2 separate regions of the Homo sapiens genome follow, and region 1 is linked to region 2. Evidence: fine-mapped expression QTL. A gene starts in region 2. The other region holds a variant in brackets. All regions are shown on one strand. Distances are from middle to middle.

Region 1 (2,911 bases), 100 kb before region 2:
CATCATCACCTTAGTTTCTTACCATGTGATGCTTTTCTAATTTCAACACTAAAAAAATACAGTGAAAATGACAACACCAAAGATGAATAACCACAAGATGGCAGAGTTTACCATTTCATTTTTTTTCTTGTTTATATCATTTATTCATTCATTCATTCAAGAATTATTCCCTGAGTGTCTACTATGTGTCTAGTGCTTTTCTAGGAGTCTAGAGGATTACAAAAGAGGTTTACATGTGATATAGATCCTGCTCTTGATGAGCTTGTGGTGGGGGGAGCCTGTGGGAAAGACATACCTGAGAACATTTAAATGAAAATACATGGTAATGTGTGATTAAAGACCAAATGCAGAGTGCTGTATGAGTTTGCAATGAGCCAGAGAAGTCTGTATGGAGGAGGGGAGAACAGAGCTAGGGCTTGAAGGATGAATAAAATAGATCGATGTAGGAAAAAAGAATAAATCCCCAGCAAAGGAACCAGTGTGGTCTATGCCACTTAGGTAGAAATGAGCAAGACACAGTCCCAGGTTAGTGGCATGACTAATCTAGTTATAATAAACAGATATTGGGTAAACAAGAATGAAATAAATTAGATCTCCATTGATTTTGTTAGAATGATGCCCACCACGAAAGCTAAACTTATCTATTAAGTCTGCCACTAACTTATTGCCTTTAGGCAAGCCGCGTGACTGATTCAACTCTAGGGTTCTCCTTTGTAAAATGTGCAGGTTGAACAAGATGACCTCAAATAGCCCTTCCAGATCTTAGAAGAAAAGGAGGGAGGGAGGGAGGGAAGGAAGGAAGGAAGGGAGGGAGGGAGGGAGGGAAAGAAAGGGGAAAAGAGAGGAGAGGGAAAAGCTGATTCTAAGTTCCCTAGCAATTACTCTATGGCCTTTGACATGGTTCAGTTGCAAAAAAGAACAGTGATAGTCTGGTATGGTGGTTACAACTTGGGGTCTACTATTAGCTAGCCTAGTTCAAGTCTTGGATCAGTCACTTAATAGCTATTTAACAATAGGCAAGTTAGCTTAGCCTTTATAAGTTTCACTCATTCATTCAACAAATATGTATGTAACACCTTACTGTGTTAGTCAGGGTACTCCAGAGAAACAGAAACAATAAAATATATTTATATCTATGTATGTATTAATAGGAAGAGAGACTCAGTTGTAGGAATTGGCTCACACAATTATGGAGGTCAAAGAGTCCCATGGTTAGCTTTCTGCAAGCTGGAGAACCAGAAAAGCCAGTGGGATAATTCAGTCTGCATCTGAAGGCCTGAGAACCAAGGAGCTCTGATGTGTGAGAGAAGACGGATGTCCCAGCTCAAGAGAGTGAATTGACTCTTCCTCCAAATTCAGGTCTTCAATAAATTGTATGATGGCCACCCACATTAATGAGGATAACCTTCTTTTTACACTCTACCAATTCAAATGCTAATCTCTTCTGGAAACGCCCTCACAGGCACACCCAAAAATAATGTTTTACCTGCTCTCTGGGCATCCCTTAAGCTAATCAAATTGACACATAAAATTACCATCACACTTACAATATGCTAAGCCCTATGTTAGTCATTGGGAATAGAGAGATAA[ACAAG/G]ACAAACAAGATCCCTTCCCCGGAACTTATAGTTTTGTAGAGGAGATAGCCCAAACCCAGAAAATCAAACAGCCTGTTACAGCATGCTGAGAAGAAATAAAACTCCATCATGATACGTGATTGCGATTGAGTCTTCGTGTAATCTTGAAAAACAAAGGGAACTTTCAGGGAGGTAAGAAAGGCTACAGAAGAAGGTTGCAGTCAACCTTCTGAGAATTACAATGTATTGTTTACTAAACGTGCTGGCAACGTCATCTGGCATGCAAAAACAATGGACAAGGCCCCAAATGATTGGCTTTCTAAACGGTAGTAAACCTCAAGGGTACCAATATAAAATTTATTCTTTGCTAGCGGGGAAAAATATTTTAAAAAGTTAATCTATCCTTTTTGGACTTTTGTGTCCTGATTCTCCAAAACTGATCACTTTGAGGAAACTGAATTAATTACGCATGTCCTTTGTTTGAAGGATTTTTTTTATTTTTTATTTATTTATTTATTTTTATTTTATTTTATTTTTTTTGAGACGGAATCTCCAGTGCCAGGCTGGAGTGCAGTGGCGCGATCTCGGCTCACTGCAACCTCTGCCTCCCAGGTTCAAGTGATTCTCCTGCCCCAGCTTCCCGAGTAGTTGGGACTACAGACGTGCGCCACCACACCCAGCTAATTTTTTGTATTTTTAGTAGAGATGGGGTTTCACCATGTTGGCCAAGATGGTCTCGATCTCTTGACCTCGTGATCCACCTGCCTCGGCCTCCCAAAGTACTGGGATGACAGGTCTAAGCCACTGCGCCTGGCCTTTTTTTTTTTTTTTTTTTTTTTTTTTTGAGATGGAGTCTCGCTCTATCACCCAGGCTGGAGTTCAGTGGTGGGATCTCGGCTCACTGCAACCTCCACCTCCCGGGTTCAAGTGATTCTCCCTGCCTCAGCCTCCCCAGTAGCTGGGATTCCAGGTGCCTGCCACCACGCCCTGCTAATTTTTGTATTTTTTAGTAGAGATGGGGTTTCCCCATGGTGGCCAGGCTGGTCTTGAACTCATGACCTCAGGTGATCCGCCCGCCTTGGCCTCCCAAAGTGCTGGGATTACAGGTGTGAGCCATTGCACCTAGCCTGTTTGAAGGATTTAGATAACAGCCCATTTTTCTCCACTCAAATGTTATCTGATGTGCTAGCTGATGATAAATCATTGCTGCTCGTTTAGATAGATTCAGTTTTTAATTTTTTTTTTATTTTAGAGACAGGGTCTTGATCTGTCACCCAGGCTAGGGTACAGTGACACAATCATAGCTCACTGCAGCCTACGCTTCCTGGGCACAATTG
Region 2 (2,893 bases):
AGTAGACTCCAAATTCTTGGCTTGGTGTGCCAGGCACTTTTGAGCCTCATCTTCCTTACTCCCAGCCAGACATCCTACTTCCCAGCCTCACTGCACTTTCCATGTTTCCATAAACAGGCCTGGCCCTTTCACTCCTTGCTTTGCCCTTGTTTCCGTTCCCCAGAATGCCTTTCATCCTGTTCCCTCTTCTCTTTTTGGCAACTCCCACTTTGAGACACAGCATAAACATAATCTCTGTAGAACTCTTCCTATTCCAGATTTCTCCCAAATTTCTTGTTTTGCCTCTTCTGACAGCACTTTGTATATATGTCATATTATTGTTATGGAAATTAGTTTTGAAACTATCTTCCCCTACTGGCTTCTCAAGGGCAGAGACCTTGCATAGTCTTACCATACATGCTAACTGAATGCTTTTGCAGTTAGAATGATCAACAGGTTGGCAAATTTAGTTTTTGATATTGTGTTACCTCCCTCTGAGAATGCCCCAAGGTTAAGTAAAAACTCCCAACAGGGAATTTACAAGGTTTATTGTTGCTAATTTAACCAAACTTAAAGATTTTTTAAATCAATAATCAATTGTAAAGCATGGGGTCATGAAACACATTAGTAGAAAACACTGACTTTTGCCGATATGGTTCTAAAATGTCTCCTTTGGGACAGCGTGTAAACTGAGATTTGGCAAAAGAAGGAAGTGGGTCTTAGCTTTGTTGGGTCTATAAATTACTGAGTTAAGGACTGATAGAGTGGGGGTTAGGACGATCCTGGGCATAGTGCTGGGTGGGTGAGGGGTTAGTTACCTTTCCATTTCTTCGCCTTAGAATACACACTTAATTTGGCCAGCCAGCTTAGAAAATGCTCCTGGTAGTAAGATAAAAGGATTTACAGCTACATGAAAGAGAAAGGCATCAAAATTCAGGCCTTATTCAGCCTTGGGTCTGTGGTGCCTTGAGATAAAAGAGAAACAATTTATACCGGCACCGAATTAAAAAGTCCTTTTCTTCCTATCTTAGCTCGTTTTCTTCTCCTTTCCTATCTTAACATAGGGACATTCCTCTCCAGCAGCGGGCATAATGGCATGATTATGTTTTCCTCTATTTAGGGTTACTCCCCTAGCCTTGCAACCACTCCTTATTCTTTCATCTCTTTCAAAGTTTCTATTCTCCCGGACCCTTACGTTTTATTCCGTCCCTCCCTCTCTCCTCCTCTTCCTCCTCCTCCGTTTTCCCAGCTAGCTCACTCCGCCCCTCGCCGTCACTACCTTCCCTCCCCCGAGGCTCCTTCCCGCTCCTCCCGCCACCCCCCCCACCCCCTCGCCTTCAGAAAGCTCCAATCAGGAGCTCCGAAGGTGTCTCGAAGGCCCGCCCCCTCCTCCTATCCACTTTTCTTCCCCCCAATTTCTCCCTCCCCCCTTCCCCCCCCCACTCAAGTCCTGCGGACCTGGGGGCTTCGGGATCTGGGCGCTATGAAAAGTGTCTGCCCAGTCACTTCCGGTAAGGGCGCTGCGGCGCGAAGCTTCCCGCGGGACCGTTAAGGAGGGAGTGGGAGTTCCCGGTGGGCCAGGGAAGGAAGGCGCTGCCAGGAAAGGGGATCGCGAAGGGGAGCGGGAGCAGGAGCGAACTAGCGCGAGCGTCTGGGGCACTTTAGCCGCCCCTTTCCAGCCGCCCCCTCACGCGCGAGCTCCCCCGCCCCCCGGGCGGCTGCAGCGCTTCCCTCACCCCCACTCCCTGAGGTTGACACCGCCCCTCCCTCGGCGCCGCGTGACCGGAAATGGCGCCATCTTTAGCCTCTTGTGCTATTGACAATAACAAGCCCTGGTTCTTTCCCCCTCCCCCTTTCCCCCAACCACAGCCTCTCCCCTCCCAGGGAGAGGGAGAAAAGGAGGAGGAGCTGCAGCCTCACAGACTCGCTGAGTCGCTCCTGCAGAAAGGGGGGGAGAGAGATCGAAAAGCAGGGGAGGGGGACGGCACGGCCGTTTACCTGTCTGCCTCCTCATTCGCTCTCCCCCCTCGTTCTGCTCACTCCTGGTGTCAGCCTATCCGCCTTCCCAAACCCTCCCATTCCCCCGGTGTAGCCCCCCCCTTCACTTTCCTTCTCGTCCTCTGTGTTTCTCCTCTCTTCTTTCTTCCCTTCCCCCTCTAGCATTGCTACCTTCTCTCCTACACGCACGCAGGCATATAAACGTAGGTTTTTGATGCTCCTCTGCCTGTTGACCCCGCTATTTTCATGTTTCCAACAGGTTTTTCTTCCCCCAGTCCCTCAGCTGCTGCTGCTGCTCAGGAGGTCAGATCTGCCACTGATGGTAATACCAGCACCACTCCGCCCACCTCTGCCAAGAAGAGAAAGTTAAACAGCAGCAGCAGTAGCAGCAGTAACAGTAGTAACGAGAGAGAAGACTTTGATTCCACCTCTTCCTCCTCTTCCACTCCTCCTTTACAACCCAGGGATTCGGCATCCCCTTCAACCTCGTCCTTCTGCCTGGGGGTTTCAGTGGCTGCTTCCAGCCACGTACCGATACAGAAGAAGCTGCGTTTTGAAGACACCCTGGAGTTTGTAGGGTTTGATGCGAAGATGGCTGAGGAATCCTCCTCCTCCTCCTCCTCATCTTCACCAACTGCTGCAACATCTCAGCAGCAGCAACTTAAAAATAAGAGTATATTAATCTCTTCTGTGGCTTCGGTGCATCATGCAAACGGCCTAGCCAAATCTTCTACCACCGTCTCTAGCTTTGCTAACAGCAAACCTGGCTCTGCTAAGAAGTTAGTGATCAAGAACTTTAAAGGTAACCAAGGCCAAAATCCATAATCACCTAATAAGGATTTGACACTCGAGGGGTCACGTGCTCTATTTATGTTAATATATTAAACAGTTTGGAGGTGGCCTAATGTTTTATGCA

Alleles and levels. Positions count from the first base shown, and alleles are read on the strand shown. Sizes are in standard deviations (SD) of each study's normalised expression.
For the expression in esophagus mucosa of the gene that starts at base 1,900 in region 2, G is the low allele of the variant in region 1 and ACAAG is the other (small effect, 0.13 SD a copy in GTEx).

The links. PIP is the estimated chance that this variant, and not a neighbour inherited with it, causes the effect.
Region 1: its variant is fine-mapped to the expression of CUL4B in esophagus mucosa (GTEx, PIP 0.96).

What each region holds. Positions count from the first base shown.
Region 1 is chrX:120,661,492-120,664,402 of GRCh38, reverse strand. No RefSeq gene overlaps it. Among named protein-coding and RNA genes, the nearest start is that of C1GALT1C1, 33 kb to the right of the region's middle. The variant ACAAG/G (reference allele first, on the strand shown) is at 1,591.
Region 2 is chrX:120,559,969-120,562,861 of GRCh38, reverse strand. It overlaps CUL4B (cullin 4B), which reads left to right and starts at 1,900. Exons shown (of 20, transcript NM_001079872.2): 1 at 1,900-2,779. The coding sequence starts at 2,224. RefSeq lists silencers at 1,251-1,300, 1,601-1,680 and enhancers at 1,061-1,945, 1,654-1,948, 1,946-2,831.